Linked DNA regions of Homo sapiens: all the other regions are linked to region 3. Evidence: fine-mapped expression QTL. A gene starts in region 3. Each other region holds a variant in brackets. All regions are shown on one strand. Distances are from middle to middle. Region 1 overlaps LOC101927189 (a long non-coding RNA gene). Region 2 has its middle 13 kb from the start of MLIP-IT1. Region 3 holds the start of MLIP (muscular LMNA interacting protein). Region 4 has its middle 26 kb from the start of MLIP.

Region 1 (5,169 bases), 120 kb before region 3:
AAAAAATTTTTTTTTTTTGCCCTTTGTGACAGTGACAGATTTGAAGACAGAGTCCCCATACTTTTTATAAACAGGAGTCTTTGTATTTTGAATTTGTCTGATGTTTCCTCATGATTAGATTTAAGTTCTGCATTCCTGGCCAGGATATTGCATATGTGATATTGTGTGCTTCTCAGACAGCCACATCTGGAGGCACACGATGTCTATCTGCCCCTCCCTGGTGACACCAGTTTTCCTCACACAGTAGGAGTGTTGTCCTATTTCTCCAACTGTAAATAGTTACTATTTTCTCCTTTGCAAAATAATGAGTTTGAAGAGAGACACTTTAAGACCACCCAAATATCCTGCTCCTCATTACAATTTCCCCTCAGATTTAGCATCTATTGGGATTCTTACCTGAACCAATCTTTGCTGTGATGGCAACAAAATGACAAGGATCACTTCAGCACTCCCTCCATGTTTACCAGTCAGCATGTGACCTTCTACTTTAACCAAGGACCCTGCCTTTTCCTCGTGTATGGATGAATGTGTCTTAGTCTGTCTATAACAAAATACCTTATAACAAAATACCTTACACTGGGTAGTCTATATATAGTAGAAATTTATTACTCACAGTTCTGGAGACTGGGAAGTTCAAGTTCAAGGCACCAGCATATTTGGTGTCTTGTAAGGGCCCTTTCCTTATACATGGTGCTTTCTCTCTGTCCTCACGTGGTGGAAAGAGTGAACAAACTCCCTCAGGCCCCTTTTATAAGAACATTAATTCCTAATCACCTCCCAAAGATCCCACCTCTTAATACCATTACTCTAGAGGTTAAGTTTCAACACATGCATTTTGGGGGGATACATATATTCACACCATAGCAGTGTGTATTATCTGTATGAACCCACGGATTTCTGTTTCCCCACCCCACCTTCCCCCAAGTGGTATATAATTATTATCCTTATTTAGCTTGGTGCTTGGATTATCCCAAATTTGGCCAGTTGGGGTCCTTTCGAGCTGGCTAGGTATGCCTGTGCCATATGTCCATTAATCTTTGGAGCACATCCTTACCTCTGATATAACAAAATGTTCCAGGCTCATCACACTTCCCCAGCCCTGCTTTCAGCGACTTCTCTAAGAACCACTTCTCTAAAAGCCCCTTTTGGTGGGGAATGGTGTTAGAGATAAAAATCCATGCACTAGCTGTGCTGTTTGCTCCTGGAATATCTCTGCTTCTACACCTTTTTAAGTGAACAGAGCTAGGAGATATATGCATGCATATACACACTCTTACATACATACATATAAATGCACATACATACACATTATATGCACACATACATGTTTATACACATACATGTGCATATTTTAGGTATCATAAGTGTACACCAATACCTCCATTTTCAATTCATCTTTTTTGCCTTCCTCCATTCCATATTTGCATGTACCTTCTTTCACAGTGAGAGTCTTGGCTTCTAAAATCGATAGATTTACACATTTGCTCAATCTCATAATACACCTAAAGTAGTTTCAGAATGACTTCACCCATGTCTACAAAAATGCAAAGCTACTCAAAAGAGTTCAGGATCTCTAGTTTCCAGTTTTTCCATCTCCCTACCCTGCCCAAGGCTGAGGGCTGTAGGATGTGCAGTCAAAACTGTTGTAAGTTATGAAAATTAGTTATTTTTTGCCCTGCATTGTAATTATAGTATTCATTTGAAATACAATTGGGTTCATTGTTTCAGTTTCTCCCTTTCCTATCCTTGTTGATTTAATTGTTTTGGATATGTCAAGCATTAACATGCTTTCAAAAGTCAAAACTTACAGAAAGATATACTCAGAAAAGTGTTCCTCCTTTTTACAGCCCTGGCACTCTCATCACCTTCACCCTTTGTGGGTAACCAACATATTAATAATTGTTTCTGGCTTTTCATTCTGGTGAATTTTTGGTAAATATAAGATATATGTATGTTTTCTTATTTTTCCATCTTTCCTAAACAAAGATAGTGGTATTACATACAGTCTCTGGTGCTTTGATTTTTCACTTTACAAGATCTTTTGACCATCATTCCATATCAGTCCATAGAGAGCTTTCTCATTCTTGTTTACCATGACAGAGTATCCATTGTGTGTTTGTACTAGAGTTTATTCAACAGTGTCCTATGATTAGACATATAGGCAGTTTCTAATATTTGCAATTACAAACACTGCCACAATGAATAAACTTCTGGATATGTATTTTTGCAGTTGTAAGACTATCTTTAGAATAAATTCCTAGAAGTGAGATTGTTGGGTTTATGGACAAATGCATATGTAATTTTGGTTGCTATTGTCCAATCCTCTTCTGTGGAGTTTGTATCATTTTGGATCCTCAACAGCAACGTATGAAAGTGCCTGTTTCCTCACAGCCCCAGCAATGAACTGTATTGTGACACTTTTGAATTTTTCCCAATGGGATGGGTGAGAAGTTGTATCTCATTGTAGTTTAATTTGTGTCTACTATTATCAGTGAAGTTGAACATCTTTTCAAATGCTTAAGGACCATTTAAAATATCTTTCTGTGAGTTGTCTACTTATATTTTTTGCCCATATGTCTATAGGATGTTTTTCTCCTTTAATTTGTAAAAGTTTGTTTTTATATTAAGAATATCCATCCGTTATCTATGAGATATTCAATATTGCTTATATTGCAAATATTTTATCCTGGCTTGTACTTTGTTATTTGACTTTGCTTGTATTTTTTCTTTGTAAAATTTTAATTTTCATTTAGTTAAGTTTATCACTCATTTCTTCAATTACATCTGAATTTTTAGTCACAGTTAGAAAGGCTTTTCTTATAGAGGAATTCACACATCTTTTTCCCCTAGTACTTGCATAGTTTTATTTTTTACACTTTGATTCATTTTGAATTTATTTTTGTGTATGGTGTGAAGAATTGATCTAATTTTATCTTTTTCCAAATGGCTAATCAGTTGTCCAGCATGACTTATAAAAAGCCAATCTTTGCTTTAATGATTTGCAATACCAACTTTATCATATACTGAATTTTTTTTTTTTTTTTTTTTTTTTTAGATGGAGTCTCCCTCTTGTTGCCCAGGCTGGAGTGCAATGGTGTGATCTTGGCTCACTGCA[A/G]CCTCCACCTCCCAGGTTCAAGCAGTTCTCATGCCTCACCCTCCCAAGTAGCTGGGATTACAGGTGCCCACCACCATGCCTGGCTAATTTTGTTTTTTTTTTTTGTATTTTTAGTAGATACGGGGTTTCATCATGTTGGCCAGGCTGATTTCGAACTCCTGACCTCAAGAGAGCTGCCCGCCTCGACTTCCCAAAGTGCTAGGATTACAGGCATGAGCCATCACACCCAGCCTCATATATTGTATTCTGTATATAATTAAGACCTTTCCTTTTCAAGGCAATATATATAACAATAAAAAGATGAATTAAGTAAGCCCTCTGAATTAATATATTAAGTGGTCCCTCAGAAGGGAGAAATTTTGAAATTAAATATTATCTAAAGATTTTGATATTCACTTAATGGGAGTATCTGAATTAAGTGTCACAACTAAAATAGTAGAGTGGTCACATTCCCTAGCACCAGTTCTCAAACTTTGTTAAAAATGCAGATTCCTGAGCTCTATCATTAAACATTTTTATTTAGAAGTGGGGAGTGTGGCCTTCGTATTTCAGCTGCTTAACTAGTAGCACAGCGAAGACGGTATAAGGGTCTTTGGATCACTTTTTGAAAAGCATGGTCTTAGAGAGAAGGAACAGCCCACACTCGTTCACAGTGTAGCAACACGCGGGAAAGAGAACAGTCAAATTGTTTTGATGATGACGAAAGGAAATGCAGGCTTTCTAGTATATACAAAACATATTCAAAAATCTAGAAGTTTATCACTAAGGTTTTTGGAAGTAAATCTACATTTAGCAACTCAATTTTTTAGATTTTATTCTCAATTATCTGGACATGAGATTTAGGTCTGTGATTCTCAGGTCTTCTTAGTTATACATATCACTCAAGGAGCTATGGACTCCAAATGACTTATGTTTGTGATAAAGCCTCATTTACCCCACAATAATAGGAAAGCTGCTCTGATTTTCTGAAGTTAGAAATGAAAGATTAAGTAAGTACATTTGTTATAGTTTAATATTACACATTGTATGATGAAAACATTGTCTCCTACACTGCCTCCTATTATCTGGAAAATTAGTAATACTAAAGTGTTCTTTCAAAACCAGAGACCTAAATGGCTGGAAGCAATAATTGCTAGAGCTCTCCACCAAGCTTTGACTATAAATATTTGGCCATATTGTGTGTTAGAAAATATAAGACACACTTGCTTTCATTTTCTGAGCCTGACTCACTGAATTTTCTTGTCCAGATTGGTTTTCATCTGTTTATTCCTTTAGAGCATAGATTAGAGTCCATTGTGGTTCTCATCTCTGTTATGCATGTTTTTTTATGAATAAAATGCCAGGCACACAGAGCATACATATGCACATTTTACTACGAGATAGTAAAAGCTCAATGTGCTGGGACTGCATTCCCAATGTGACCTTATTTTCCCACTCTTTGCAGTTTTAAAATGTTACGTTAATCTGGCGTTCTGGACGGGGATTTTCTCTTCTTTACAGTGAGTCCCAGCAGTATATAGCGGCCATAGAATAGCTAAACTTGAAGAGGCTTTTTGGCAAAGATTTGAATATATGTCCTTTGGCCTTTTCTGGTTCTTGTCTGTATTTCATAATACAAAACTAATGAGGATTTCACTTTGGTGAAATCTGCCTTACTAAATGATGCTTGCAAATAACACATTCATTTGTTAGCATTTGGGATTCTGATTAAATCATTTTGCTTTAGTAGCTGTTAAAGATTATAGTTTGAAAGAAAAAAGTGTTTTGGCATTGAGTACTTTGAGACCCCTGTACAGTGTACCAAAATCTATGCAAATTGTTACGAGGCCTTTTAATTACAGGTGAACCCCAGCACTTATTATCATCTGATGCACAGATTATGCACATGTCATATATTGGTAATAAAATATCAAAGTTAGACTGACACTCTTAAAGTGCTTAACACTGTTTTATTGGCTTACTAGCCCTAACTGGATTCATTGCATCCATTTTTTTCATTCTGCCACTTAAAACATTTGCCACGTTGTTTTATTCATGCTTTTATCACAGCTTTG
Region 2 (5,169 bases), 100 kb before region 3:
ACCCAATGACCACAACCAAGGAGGATTTACCAAGGGGATTTTTGTTACTTGCAACAAGTAAGGAGAACACTGGGGATAGTTCCCAAAGCAGTGTGTCTCTCCAAAGGAAGATGAGAGCAGGGCTTTCATTAGGCTGGTTGGCTTAGTCATTGTATGAAAGGCAGGGTAAAGGCAGTGCAGGCACAGTCCTGATCATGCTTCTTCATATATTGCAGGTATAGAAAATGGTGAATAAGCTCCTCCCTAGGTGGGGTTTTTAAGTATGGTAATAGGGAGAGTTCACCAAACTTCATCTCCAACTCAGGCACCTCTGGTTTTACCTGGTTTTTGTTTTGCTATAGCTGGGCTTCTTCCTGGAACCTTTTGAAACAGCAGAAACTCAGTGTGCCACAGTTACAAGTTACTAGGGAACCCTGAGTTACAATGTGAATGATCCCAAAAGGCAAATAAATTGTGATAGCTTCCTTCTTTTAAAAATACACTATAGAAGGCAGGTGGGATGATTTACAGGGTGGGATGACAAAGCTAATCTGAGATGATATATTTTCCACAGATAATCAAGTAAATGAGCAATAATTTGCTTTTCAAATTCTGAGTCTCTTCCCTGGCTATGCTTTAAATGGGACTTCCACATGGGCCATAGCCCAAAGTTGGATCCCTTTGCACAGAGGCTAGACATTGAAGTAGTGGCCTTTGGGGTAACGCAGACTCACTTCTGTTGAGAGTAATTAGCGAAGAAAATTTGTGGGAACTGAGGAAGGTTCAGCAGAAGTCTGCCCTCTCTGGACATTTTTTGGTGGCTGGGAAGCAGGGCAATTGTCCTGCCTGACTGTGGAGTTTGTTCAGCCTTGTCATGGACATCTATTGCATAATTCCGACTTTCCTTCTCTGGAGTAATGGACATTTCACTTCAGAAGGACTTTTAATTTTACTTAAAAAATCCAGTCAACATAATAGAAGATAAATTCAATTTTCAGTAACATTTTACTCTGTTACCACTTATGTCCTTAGGGAAGCTTAAAGAATTTTCATCAGTACACTAAAAATTAGATAGTTGGATATGTTGCAAAACTTTCAACACTTGACTCAAAATTCCCACTATTGCTAAGACATTCTTATAAAGAAATATTTTGGGGGGAACTTAGCAACTACGGTTCTTGTGAAGTGGTCCCAGTGGGAATGAGGTTTATGCCAAACTCTTTTTTTAAAATTTGGTTTCTGCCTCTTGTGCCTGGTATCCAGTATTAGTTACAGAGTAAACAGTATTTTCCGAAGACTGACAGGGTCAGCTGTTCTGGGAATGTGGCCGTTGACCTCCCTGATGGATTACTGTCCTGCAGACTGCTTCCAAGTCAGTAGAAAGGTAAGCATTCTTTCTGTATAAGTGCAGATTGCTTTGGAACATGTTACAATTTCAACTGATAAAACTGAAAGTACATTTTGGGCACACTGTCTCAAAGGGCACCGAGCTGTTACTTTGGGGGCAAAGTGATTTATCATGTCAACACAACCATGACAGTTAAGCTGCTGGGTTTGGGGGAGGGGTGAGCTAGGTGTTGAATCTGGTTGTATTGATTAAGTCAAAAAGACCCAGAAAAACTTAAATCCGGAACTCCTTTCCAAAGTTAGAAAGACACATTGTAATTCTGCTTCTGAGTCCTTTTCCCTAAAATCCTGTCAGTTCACCTTGGTTTGTTGTCTTTACTCCTGAAATAGCAACGGTGTGTGTGTGTGTGTGAGAGAGAGAGAGACAGAGACAGACAGACAGACAGACAGAAAGTGGCTACTAGGAACTACTAGGAAGTGTATCGACCGTTGAAAGGGCCTAGAAATATATTGACTGCAAATGCAAGAGCAAATCCTGTTCAACCAAGTACCTCTGTGGATGTAACCATGCACAAGAGAAAATAAATTGAAAGCCCCTTGAAAACGTGCTATTATATAGTAGTTGAGAAAACGGAACATGCTGGACTTGATTCTCAACTGATTTTAGCCAGTTTGTTTTACAGACTCTGAAGGTATGAATTTAGTTTTATATCCGAATTACTATTGCTA[T/C]GTAGAAATTGTCACCAATGTTAATAGCAGTAGTTTTTTAAAACCTCACATTTTACTTTTCAATAAGTTTCCAATAAAGGAATTGCATTTTTTTAAGATGGTGCACAAATTAAAAAAGCACTTTTCAAAGTTCTTACAGTTCTCACTTGATTCAAATATTTTCTAATGCTTCAAAAAACACTCTGCCTCAGAAGTAATTTTAGAAAGAACATGTTTTCTCCCTTAGATGGACTAAAATGTATTTTTTATAGTCATTCAAAAAATATGGCCCAGAACCAAAATAAGGGGACAACCAGTATCAGAAGAAGTTAAAAAACTTACATTCCAGTAGAAATAGTTTATGTTTCACTGAAGAACAGTAATTACAAAGGTACAAGTTTGTTAAGCTGTCATTATCATAATTATCATCTACTGATATTTTGGGGTTGGCTTTTTTATCTGCTTGGCAGCTTCAACTTACAAACAATATTTGTTGTATAGTGACGAATTCAACTTTAAGAAATTCCTCTATAGACATTATCTTTTCACAAGCTCTGAGTACCCACCACAACTTTTAGAACTCAGTACTGCTTGCCTACAGAAGCCATCACGGATGCCTTAAAAAGGGTGGTGATGGGAGGTTAAAAGTCTTCCCGTAGAAGAGTTGACAGCTGCTCCTTAAGAGTTTGCAGCTGCCAAAGCTGATAAATAGATTCAGGTAAGGATGCTGAGACAACCAGAAAGAGCTGGGAACCATTCTCTCGCTTGCCTACAGCCACCTCCCTCCCCAATGCTGTGACCACCAATTGGAACACAGCTTTCTAGAGACAAAGGCATAAGCTCTGAACTAAGAGCAACACCAACAGATCAGAAGTTAACTGTTTGAGATCAGTGCTCAATGCTGGGTCTGAGCTACATTTGGATTAGGCCCTTGGGTACCTGAAGCATGTGCTGAGTATAGTATCCTGGTCCATCACTAAATGGGTGTGGAGATTACGTGGGCTTCTGAATTGATCAAGGGGGGAATAACGGACTCATGTTCTGGATGGGCTATGTGGAATGATAAGAAACCTTTATAAAAGCATCAATTGTCCCAGAAGATGACCCCTGTCTTAGTAAAAAGATATTTATCCTTGGAGCATGTAATGGGGAAGATTCTGGGTTGTCTATGCCATGTTTGGCAGATTGTCATTCTTTCAAAAGAAAACAGCATTTGTTTTCATTCGTGCCTTGTCTACCTTGTGAGGTTTCAGCAGTAGAGCACCTATCTGTGCTTTTTTTGTGGAGAAGGAAGTTTTTTAAATGGCAGGTGAGGGAAAATCACCACAATTAAAGTTAATTTACATTTGGATCTCTGATCCAGTAAATGAACAAGCAATTTTAATTGCTGCAAGTTCCACTTTCCCCCAGTTTTTGAATACAGGCACAAATTCATCAGGCACTTATTTGGGAAGCAGGTGTATTGAATGCAAAGGAATGAAGTGAGGTGGCAATATCTTGAACCAAATATTATGTGCCAGCGGTCATTTGTTTCCATTTTGAATGGAATTCTTGCTTGGTTACTGCAGTTTACATTTTAATTTCCTGTTTGGAGGGACCCTATGTGTGTAGTATATTCCTGGGAAAAATAATAAATTTCCAGCTTAAAAAGGAATTACAAATCTTTCTTTGTCAATTTTTTTTAAAAAAGTAATAGCCTTCTTAATGTATAATTTATATGCTATAAAATTTATCCTTTTACGCTGTACATACACTTTGGTGATTTTTAGTATATTTTCAAAGTTGTACAAAATCATCACCAATGTCTAATTTCATAACGTTTTCATCATCCAAAAGAGTAACTCTGTTCCCGTTAGCAGTCACTCCCTGTTCTGCCTTCCCTCCTACCACTGGAAACCACAAATGATCTTTCTCATTCCATGAATTTGCCTATTCTGGACATTTTATGTAAATAAATCATGTAATAGGTGGTCTTTTGTGACTGGCTTCTTTCACTTATTGTATTTTCAAGGTTCATCCATGTTCTTGCATGTATTAATACTTAATTCCTTTTTATTGCTGAATAGTTTTCCCTGTATGGATATACCACATCTGTTTTACCATCCATATACTGATAGATATTTGTGTTTTTTCCACTTTTTGACAATTACAAATAATGCTGTCATGAACATTTGGGTAGAAGTTTTGTGTGGACACATGTTGTCACTTCTCTTGTGTATATACCTAGCAGTGGAATTTTGGGGTAATATTGTAATTCTATGTATAGCATTTTGAGGAATTGCCACACTGTTGTCTAAAGTGGCTGTGCCCCTTTATGATTTCAGGAGTAATGTAAGAGGGTTTCAGTTTCCTCACATCCTTGCCAATGCTTGTTATTGTTTGTGTTTTATTTTAGCCATCCTAATAGGTGTGAAATGTTATTTCCTGGTTTTGTTTTGTGCTTCCTAATCACTATGATGTTGAACATCTTTCCATGTGCTTGTTGGCCATTTGTTTTCTTTGGAGAAATGTCTATTCAAATCCTTTGTCCATTTTTTTACATTGGGTTATTTGTCTTTTTATTGTTGAGTTGCAAGAGTTCTTTATGTATCCTGGATACAAATCTTTTATCAGATAAATAACTTGCAAATATTTGCTCTTATTTTCTATTTCAGTGGTTTCCAACCTTTTTGCTTCCCAGAAGACAATTTTTCCACAGATGGGGCTAGGGGTGGGGGATGGTTTCTGGATGAAACTGTGCCACCTCAGATCATCAGGCATTCGTTAGATTCTCGTAAGGAGCATGAAACCTGGATTCCTTACATGCGCAGTTCACAATAAGATTCACGCTCTGATGAGAATCTAATGCTGCTGCTGATCTGACAGGTGGTGGAGCTCAGGTGGTAATGCTCGCTCAGCTGCCACTCACCTCCTGCTGTGCAGCCCATTTCCTAACAGGCCACAAAGTACTGGTTCATGGCCCAGGGGTTGGCGATCCCTGGTCTAGTTAATTTTTTTGCCACACTTATTAGGGTTTGGATAGTATCTTTGAAGTCACCTTTTTCCTACATAAATGTCATGTCGACCAGGGAAAAAATGTCACACGCTTTTACTGAGAACCTGCTTGTTGCCAGACATTCTGTTAGGTTCCTTACA
Region 3 (5,169 bases):
TTTATTCTCATTTATGTTATTTATAAAACTAGAAAACAACAATACCCACAGGAGTAACGTGTATTAAGAATCTGCCTGGCACAGAGCTAAGAATCTGTGGAAATCTTACATGCTGAATTTAATTGTAATCCTCACAAGAACTCTGTGAAATGAGAGCTATTCTCATCCACATTTCACAGGTGAGAGGACTGAGCCTTTAAAAAGTTCAGTAACTTGTCTGAGGGCCCACAGCCAGTGGATGATGTGGCTCCAGGGTCCTGTGCTTTATGACTTACTGCTCTTGCTGTCCCGATAGGTGCCTTCAATCCAGCCCTCTCTCTTTGCTTGAAATACTTGCTATTCCATCCCACCTTCATAGTTTCCCTTTCCCCGTTCTTCTAAGTGCAGCCCAAATGCCACCATCTTGAATTACTGCCCTCCAGGTGGCTGTAACATCGTTCTCTGAAATTCCTCTGTCTTTGCTACTCAAAGTGTAACACACCAGCAGCAGATCTGGGGTGTGGCTCCCAGGGCATCTACTAGGAGCTTCTTGGAAATGCAGAATCTGAGGCCACATCTCAGATCTCCACACTTAGAAAGTGCATTTTAACAAGCTCCCCAGGGGATTTATGTGTGCAGTAGTTTAAGAAGAACTGCAGTATAGGGCTTTCTTTTCTTTCTTTCTTTTTCTTTCTTTCTTTCTTCCTTCCTTCCTTCCTTCCTTCCTTCCTTCCTTCCTTCCTTCCTTCCTTTCGTTTTTTCTTTTTCTTTTTTTTTTTGACGGAGTCTCGCTGTGTCGCCCAGGCTGTAGTGCAGTGGCGCGATATTGGCTCACTGCAAGCTCCGCCTCCCGGATTCATGCCATTCTCCTGCCTCAGCCTCCCGATTAGCTGGGACTACAGCTGCCCGCCACAACGCCCGGCTAATTTTTTGTATTTTTTAGTAGAGACAGGGTTTCACCATATAAGCCAGAATGGTCTCGATCTCCTGACCTTGTGGTCCGCCCGCCTCGGCCTCCCAAAGTGCTGGGATTACAGGCATGAGCCACGGCGCCTGGCCAGTATAGGGCTTTTTCTTGTTTTCTTTTTTCACTTTGTATCTTTGTTATTTGTTTACCTGTTTTATATTCTCAAACCATTAGCTTTTTGAGGGCAAGAGGCACTTATATTCTCTTTTGAGTATCCATAAATATGTGTAAAATAGAAGAAGGCTCATAGTTTTTTTTATAACACGGCACTTATATTCAGAAATTTAGATCATATTCTAGGTCTGTGTTGTTTGGAATAGTTCCTCCCACTGTGCTAATAGAATCACTTATAGCAATTATTTTACTCATTATGTTTCCATAATCTCAGGCTTTTGATAACATCGAAAATGTGAAGAGGCATAATCTAGGTTTCTAAAATAGTAATTCCTTCCCATAGCCTTTGATCTATATCTAGTCCTTTGGATACAACACTTTTCACTGCCAAAGCACAAATGTAGATATTACAGATTTGGAGAAAAATCAATACTTAGAAAATAGAAGTACTGAAAGCTGAAGACTCCAATCAATTTCACATATGAAGTTTTAAGGTTTGTCTGCAGTCAGGATTCTCACTGTCTTCCAGGAACCTTGGAATGAAATTCTGTTTTGACAAGGATTTGATTCCAAGCTTTATTTTAGAGGTGATTTTGTTAATAACATAACTTCAGTCACTACAGATGCTCCTGTATTGTTGCTTACAATTTATATACTAAGGATAAAGTTACTGATATTTTGAAATAACTGTGTGTTTTCTAGTTCTTTATTTGGACACAGTGTTTGCATGTATTTATACCTCTAAATGTTCTCTATGAGCATGACCAACTGATTATTGAGATTGGCAGGTGCTAGCGCCCTTCAATCAGCTTCTCATTGCTGCACAATCTGGCTTTTCTCTTCTTTTCACAGAATATATAATTGGAATACATGCATGAAAAGAAAAGAGGGAAAACACATATCAGTGGCTTTTTTTCTTTTTCTTTTTCTTTTTTTCACTTCTACTGATTCCATTTCAGCAGTTAGTATGACCTCTCATAATGTTCCAAATCTAAAAATTGTCAAAACAGAAATCTACTCTTCGGAGCTGACACAATTCCTCAATTTTGGAATGACTCTGCTTTACCTCTTTTTAGAATTTCTTCTTTCTGCGTGAGTGTGTGTGTGTTGTTTTAGTATGAGGCTCCCTTCCCACCTCAGTCATTGGTTTGCTCGCTCCCTTATGTGATGAATCAATGCTTTCAGAACAGGGGCTTCTGAGTGACTGCGGGAACAATTACTTCCAAATGACCTCGTGCATCTTATCAGGGAGCATTCAGACCACACCCCAGGTAAAAGGAAGTCTTTGCTTAATGCTTTCAGTAACTTTTAAAAGCAGTGTACGGTGCTGGTGGTATTTGCTGCAAGGATGTGAGGGAGAGCTGCCCAGTGAAGATAAATTTGTATGTATATTGAAATGAAATGCTATCTTCACTTAGAGAAAAGGGTGAGCTGATAAAGACAAAACTGCTCATTGGGCAAAGAAAATGCTCAGGATTGCCCTTGGCACAGTGATAATGTAAGATACCCTGTAATGCCTTAACAGGAGGCTAGAGGCCATCTGCGAGTGTGGGTGTCAACATCTGAAGGAAGAGAACTTTTAGGGAAATATAAGAAAGGAAGGCATTACAGCCCAAAACTGAGCAAAGGAGCTGTTAGCCTGCGTGGCATGCGGGAAAACAGTTTCTCAAATTATTAGGCTATCCGGTGAGAAGATGACGTTCTTAGAGATTTTGAGCATTTCAAAGTGTATTTAGAAAAAGATTTTAATCCTTTTATCTCATATTTCTATGACTAAATTAGTTTCCCAAGGATAGAAACTAAGATATTTAAATAACATTGACAACTGAAAGTGTTAATTGGCAATTAACAAGTGCAATGCTGTTAACATGCATCTGTTGCTGCTTTGTGTGGAAAATGGTTTTTCATCACCATAGCAATTCATTCTTAGGCTACATTGGAACTTAGCCACAGTATGCAGTAAACAGCAAATATTTTTTTGTTCTCTCCTAAACAAGGGATTAAATAGTCTACTGGCTAATATGTGGCTCTTTATCTGAATGTTGCATTGCATAGTTGGTGTAATTTCAAATTCTTTTCCAACTGAAATTCCTTGTGAATGAGTATTAGATCCTTGGTAAGTTAAGGATGCTAGGTAAAGGTGGTGAAAAGAGCTAATATTGTACTGTTAGCTTAAAAGCGAATACCAAATGATTGCCCTTTTTGTGATTATTCTTCTGAAGATATGTATGTGGACAGGAATTTATGTCTGATCTTGTTATTCTCCAACAGTAACTCAGGAAGATGAATAAGTCTTTAGTTTTATTAGATTTCCTGTTTCTGTGTTTTCTGGAATCACATCATGTACTGGTTCAACTAAAATAAAAAAAAATTGTTTCCTTACACTGGTGAGAAAATTTTATGTAGGATATGGATGTTTCTTTAGGAAAATATAACAATAAATTAGAAAGAAATAGGTTTTCTTCTTTTCAGTTGCCTTTATTGTCAGGATGTGGTTATGTTTAGAAATTTTTTAGGCAGTACCGTTGTAAAAGCATACCTTATTCATTGAAGCATCAGTTTTCATTCATACTTTGTTTCTACTTTATTCACTGAAAGTTATAGCTGTCAACTTTTAAAAAGTTCATAGCATGTGACATACCAGTTGTGGAGCTGTATTTGTATCTTAGATACTTAAGTAGCATTGAATTATACAAATTGTGCAAGGTGTTTGAAGAAATAAATTTTCATCATTATATATGCTTTAGAAGGTAAAGCTACTTACTGCTTATAATGGTTATATGTATTTTGTAACCATGGGGTGCTTATAATGAAGACTTTCATATATTATTTTTTAAATTTTATTTGGATGGAACATAAGATAGACCTATAGTCATGACATGGAAAGATAAGGGAAGGCCTAGTTACAGAACCTGGGGACAAAGTTGCAATTTCACCTCTTTACTCCTAAAGGATTATCTTTATTTCTTACTCAAATGAAATTATGGGATGGATTATTTGAACTACTTCAGTAATTTCCTTGCCAAAACCACTCTCCTTTCTATCATGATATTGATGAGATTAGTTATGTGATGAAACAGCCCTAGAAGATAATACATCTAGAAGGCCTGTTGTATTACGTATTGTTGATAGATAAGTGGGCTCCTTAAATCTCACAAGGGATCCTTCCTACAATATAAAGCACTGATTTATTACTTTTTGATGATAAGGTATTTTGACATGGATACAATGAGGAAATAATGACACATATCTTTAAAGGCGAAAAGAATATTGAAAATTAAAAGTTTTTAAAACCCTGTCAATATTCTTGTCTCACAGTTCCTTGATCTTCACAAGCTCAGTGCCCTTCCTTTCATATACTCAGTCTTAATGCCAAAGCCTGGAATTTAGAATCATCTGGAATTATCATACTTCTAATTATTAAATTAATAAACTCTCATATCATATTATGACCCCATCCATTCTCTCAAACAGTCATCATAGTATCAACTCTGTTTCCTGAGCACAGAGACCTCTAGTTCCTTCAACTTGAGGGTTCTTCCTCCTTACCTATACAAACTGAACTCCATGGTCAATCATTTGCTCTACTCTCACCAGTACCCTTAATTTCCTTATACTTGCCACATCCTGCCAAAACCAGCAAAGCATTCCTTGAGAGACTATCGAACAGCCAAGCAAATTGCCTCACTGTTCCTGGATTTATATTTGGACTGGTTCCTCAGTGTAGACTGTGAGAAATTTTGTTTCTGGTCAGCCCTCTTTCTGACTACTGTCAGTGATGTTTCAGCCTTTTAAAATCTTCCTTAAAACGCCCAGGCCACCTTGGCTAGTTCTTCCTCAGCTGGTGGATCACTCAATGTTAGAGTCTGTAGGGTTTGGCCTTAAGCCTCTTATTTTTCTATTTGTGTTTACATCTTTATTGATCTCATCTAGTCTCCTGGTTTTAAATATCATCTATGGGTTAACAACCCTAGTAATTTTATCCCCAGCACAGAATTTCCTGTAAACTTGACTCATACTCACATTTCCACTTGGTTGTATATTGGGCACACAAAATTTGATCGTTATTCTCAAACCAGCTTCAACTATTGTCTTCCCCATTTCAGTGA
Region 4 (5,169 bases), 26 kb before region 3:
CCTCAATTTCCAGGCAAAGAGTTTCTCTTAGAACACTGCTAAGGTCAAGATAGGTTAATATATTCAGATGGGATTGAAATAACAGATGCATTGCTATTTCCAGTCCAGAGTTGTTGGGGAAGCAGGGAGGAAGGAGGGCATAATTTGTACAGTGCTTTGTCATCTTTGCAGCTCATCAATATCAGCAGCTGACACAGGCAAGTGTTTGTCAATGAGTTCTATTGGCTGACACTGACCTTGCCGTTACAACCACTGCTTTCTTGACATCTGCTAGTTTGACACGTGGCACCGGATTCCATGTGCAGCTGGTACCTTGGATTTGAATGTTCTGTGAGTTCTATGACATTATTAGTACAATTCCTTGATACTGTCACCCTGTTATACATTTAACATCAATGATAGCTGTGTACTGTCTTTGTATTTCTTATTTCGTATTGCAGTAGTTATGTTTTAGGTGGCATGGCTGTTTATAATGGTATCAGACAACAGATGTTAAATTAGCTGTGGACTAATTAGCATGCTCAACTTTAGAATTGCTCCAGGAAAAGTTGATTTTACTATAACTTTATATAATGGGAAATAATTTAGGTAAATTGTTGGTAGGAATGAGTATCATGAATCTGAAAAATTGCTTTGCATTTAAGCTGCTACTTTTTAGGACTAAATTTGAGATTATATATTTTTTAATTTAAAAATAATTTTAAGTAGAACAAACTTGGGAATGTAAAAATGTATCATGATTTTAATGATTTGATCTTGAAATAGGTTTCAACATGTAATTCTAATTTCTTAACATAGTCTCAGTTATGCTTTGTGACTATGAATTACAGAAGCCACAGTTCTACTTTTTCCTCTTTGTCCTTCCTTGAACTTTTTTGCTCCCCCTATCACCCCTCCCTTCTCTCTTTCCTAACCTGGCATCCCAGTATTTGTACACTCTTTAGTTGAAGCTTAGGATTCCACATGTGAAGGTTCATTACTTATTTTTTTTCCAGTAGTGTCCCTGGAAACTATGAATTATCCACAGTAGTAATTGAAGATAACAATTTTGTTTATGGTGCTGAACATGATCACATTTACTGCTGGGTGTGTCAAGCCTACGATGATGGAATAATAAATGGGTACTGAACGTTCCTGCAACTTTTATTTGCAAGGCATTGCTCTTGCAATCAGGGTCACATTACCTAGATGTCAGTGAAATAAGACAGGGAGAGGGTATTTATTTAATCCACCATGAATGCATTCCAGAGTGACTTAATTGCTTTTCTATACCTCAAGCAGGTGGATATGTGTACATATACAATAGCTGGGAACCTTTTTAATTTGGGTTAACAAGGAGAAAAAAGTACTCTTTGCAAATTCAGGAATTATTTTTTTCTTTTTGAATTCCTCAAATAGGGAAGATTAGTATATTTTCATTGCATTTTTTAAGCTTGTTGCCCCAGGGTAGCACAGCTTTAACTGTTCCCAATATATCCCTGTTATTGTAAAGGCATTTTAATCTAAGAGTCACGGGAGCAAATGGATGGTGGATAAAAGCTTCAAAAATTTGGCCATTGTGAATTTCTGCAAAATCTTCTTCGCTTCATTTACTTTCTGTCTAAAAGTTGTATATGTCGAGACTTGAAGGCCTTTTGAGATGATTCCAGGTGTTACTCTAGGAATGTGTTCCAATTTTGTAGCAAACCTCCACTTCTTGAAGACATTTCTTGAAGCATAGATAGACCAGATTTGAAATCTACTGTGTTCACCCTGCAGGTAGTTTTTCACTAGGAATTGCATCCACGACAGGCTTTTCATCTTTAGCAAGTCATGGGCTTCAACTGAGAGTTCCTTAAATGGATAACTGAGGCACAAGGCCAGGCTAAGTGACAGTTACAACTTCATCCTTCTCCTCTCTCCTGACACCAGCCCCACCATTTCTAACTGGCTGTGGTTCCAAGTGGCACCTCTGAGAGGCATTGAGAAACATTGTGTGACAATAGTTAAGACTGCAGTGCTATGGAGTCAGAAAGACCTGTGCCTGAGTGCTACAGCTATTGCTTGCTGTATGACCTTGGGGGAGGTTAGTGAACCATTTTTAAGCATCAGAATTCCCACTTATTAATAGGGATTATAGTCGTACCTATTTCAAAAGTTTTTGTGAGGATTCCATGAGAAAGTACTTAATAAATGTCTGGCACACAGTAAACTTTGTGTTTATCATGATATCATGATTGTCTTCATCATCTCTGGTCATGTCAGAATTCTTGGGGGGATATTTGAAGAGATCATATTTCTCATTTGTAGCTAGGCTACAAGTAAACAAAACGAATCAGTGAGATTAAAGGGTGGAAGCCCAGCAGAGTGAGCCTGAACAGTTTTACAAACCCAGCTGCAGTGTCCTGTTAGAAGCCTTCAACTTGCCAAGCACAGATCCATTCCTTTGAAAAGGTCACTGTGTGAAGAGCTGCCTACCAGTGGCTGACTCACACAAGCATCTATTCACGCTCATTTTCCTACATGAATAGTTCCAGGGTTACCAGAGTTCTAGCCTCATCTCAAGGCCTTCATTTATTTATTTTCCCAGAGCAGTCTCATCAGGCTATGAAGTTCCAGCTTGCTTTATGTTGATGACTGCTGAGTCTACATCTGCTGCTCTCACTTCTTCTGAATTCTGAAGAAGAAATTTCTTAGGCTGCATTCCAGGCCCTTTGTATTCTCTCCCAGACCTGCCATGACAGCCTGAATTTCCACTGCTCAGATTTATGTGTCGTATGTCCTGGAATAACTGAACTATT[G/A]GTTATTTTCTATAAATACTCCATATTTTTCAGTCTTCATCCTCCTCACATTTACCACCTCTGCATGTGTGTTCATTGGTTCTTTATCTACATTTACTCCTTGGCTAGGTAATACGATTCAATCTCAAGGTTGTACATGCTCTCTATATCTTTATAACTTCCACATTTACATCTCCAGATGTGACTCTATGTTTAAATTCTAGGCTCATATATCTAACTCCATACTCAGCATATTTACTTGAATGTCTAAAAGACCCCTCCCACCTAAGGTGTCCACAATTGAACAGTGGTTCTTTCTCTTCTTACCCCACCTATTTATGTGTGTATGTTTAATTTTTAGTATTACTTTGTGCTTTTCTTGACTGAAATTTGGAATCAGCCATTTCTGCAAGGAAACCTCCTTCATTTTAGGGGAATATAGCATAAAGAAACCAAGATTTGGGTGCTTAATATGCTCATTGCTACTGGAGAGTGAGATCATGTCACCACTTTGCTGTGAATATTTCAATAGTTTCTCATCTCACTCAGAATAAAAGCCAAAGTCCGTTATAGTGGCTGACAAGGCCCTAGCAATCTGGCCCCTTCTTAAGAATCTTGCCACATCCCTTCTGGCTCTTCCCCAGGGTCATTTTCTCCAGCCACACCAGCCTCTGTTCTTCAGGGATGTCAGATAGCCTCCTACCTTTGGTTCTTGGCTTTTGCTGTTCTCTCTTCTTGGAGTATTTTCACCTAGATATCTGCATAATTTATTTCTTCACTTCCTTAAATCTTCTTCTTAAAAGTCACCTCCAAGGAAGCCTTCTCTGTCCAACCTATTGAAATCTATTGTGCTCTCACCTCCATCTTCTGCTACTCCCTGTACATATCTTCCATGCTTAGTTCCTTCTCAGCACGACCACAATATTCTAAGATATTATGTAACTTATTTTATTTATCATCTATCTCTCTCTTCTAAAATAGAGGTTACATGAGGGCAGGGATTTTTTTGTGTTCAGCTCACTGTTGTATCCCCAGGATCTAGGATAACACCTGGCACCTAGCCAGTGCTCAGTCAAGATTTTTTGAACAAACGATGAGTAAATGAATATTATGATATATGGAAGTAGGGAATGGTTTCTGGAAGTCTATTCTAATATGGCATCAAAGCCAAAACAACAACCTATAGCTGTGCCTCTTCTGTGACTATGAGCGTAGAGGGCAAGGAGGTGTTACAATATCTGCCTTAGGTATGTAAACTGCTGAAGAGGTGGAAGTTTCACATTTATAGCAAATAGCCTTGGATTCAGATTGTTTGTCTTTATCTATTAATGAGTCCATTCTGATGACTCAATGACTAAATTGAAGTGGGTGGTTTCGTAGAGGGAAAGTGTTTCAAGAAAAAGAAATGTTATTTGATGCAAAAAAGAAACATAAAAAAACCCACAGAAATCAGGGATAAAAAATAGTGGCAAAGAGGAATGAATCTAATAGAGGGGCCAACACATTTCCAGTAAGTCAGGCTATCTTTGAAAGCTTGGTGACTCCTTACTTGCATGCCTTCTCCTTCCTCTGGGGGCCACTGCCCTCACATGTGTGAGGGGCCATGAGAAGGAAGAGGATCCAAGCTGTGGACCTGCATGGGTTGTGAGAACATTACTTTGTCTAAATAAAATAAAGTAGATTTTGCTTGGGTGATGCTGCCATTTACTGAACTGTTTAAGAAAAATTTTAAAAAACAAAATACTTTAAGATGCTTATGGGAAAGATACTCTTTTTTTTTTTTTAACTCCTCCACTGTTTGAGATTCTTGCTCTTTGCCAGAAGATCCATCTGCCAGGCAGCGATCAGGCTTTCTGAAGAGCCTAAAGCTCTACCTGGGGAATGTGTCCAGAGGGAGAACACCTGGGCAGGCTGAACCTACTCATGATTTAGTGCAAGTTACTGAGCTAAACAGCTTCCTTTTGGAGTCTTCAGAAACGGCCATGGTATCATTTTCAAGTTAGCTCTTGTTCCCAAAAGGAAATTTGCATATTCTTATGCTTATGTGTTTTCCAAACTTGACACATTTAGTTTATGCAAGGTGGTTTCAGAATTGAAGTAAAATAGTTTGTCTTTTCTGAAGAACAAGCCAAGGAAAAGAGAGAAACTTATGCTTAGGTCTCTGAGGCCTCAAACTTCCTGAATATGTCAAAAGTCAGATGCTGGAGGTTCAGGGTAGGAAGAAGTGAGGGTCTGGCCTAAGTGGGAGCACCAATGGATAAATCAAGGCATACAAATATAGTAACTTATGAAATTATTGACTTATTTTACCCTTCTTTGCTTTCCCTGAGGTTCTGTAGTAGGTGAGACAATCTTGATGCCAGAGTTAAACGAGGTCAAAGAGTGTGGCCGGCCACAAAGACTGTGTCAT

What was found. PIP is the estimated chance that this variant, and not a neighbour inherited with it, causes the effect.
Region 1: its variant is the best candidate, but not a certain one, in a credible set for the expression of MLIP in esophagus mucosa (GTEx, PIP 0.72).
Region 2: its variant is the best candidate, but not a certain one, in a credible set for the expression of MLIP in cerebellum (GTEx, PIP 0.58).
Region 4: its variant is the best candidate, but not a certain one, in a credible set for the expression of MLIP in subcutaneous fat (GTEx, PIP 0.54).

What each region holds. Positions count from the first base shown.
Region 1 is chr6:53,991,735-53,996,903 of GRCh38, forward strand. LOC101927189 (a long non-coding RNA gene) reads left to right here. Exons shown (of 4, transcript NR_125842.1): 3 at 3,056-3,130; 4 at 3,230-5,169. Among named protein-coding and RNA genes, the nearest start is that of MLIP-IT1, 4.6 kb to the right of the region's middle. The variant A/G (reference allele first, on the strand shown) is at 3,116.
Region 2 is chr6:54,009,694-54,014,862 of GRCh38, forward strand. No RefSeq gene overlaps it. Among named protein-coding and RNA genes, the nearest start is that of MLIP-IT1, 13 kb to the left of the region's middle. The variant T/C (reference allele first, on the strand shown) is at 2,056.
Region 3 is chr6:54,109,245-54,114,413 of GRCh38, forward strand. It overlaps MLIP (muscular LMNA interacting protein), which reads left to right and starts at 2,199. Exons shown (of 14, transcript NM_001281747.2): 1 at 2,199-2,331. The coding sequence starts at 2,236.
Region 4 is chr6:54,083,287-54,088,455 of GRCh38, forward strand. It overlaps a transcript of MLIP not described here. Among named protein-coding and RNA genes, the nearest start is that of MLIP, 26 kb to the right of the region's middle. The variant G/A (reference allele first, on the strand shown) is at 2,781.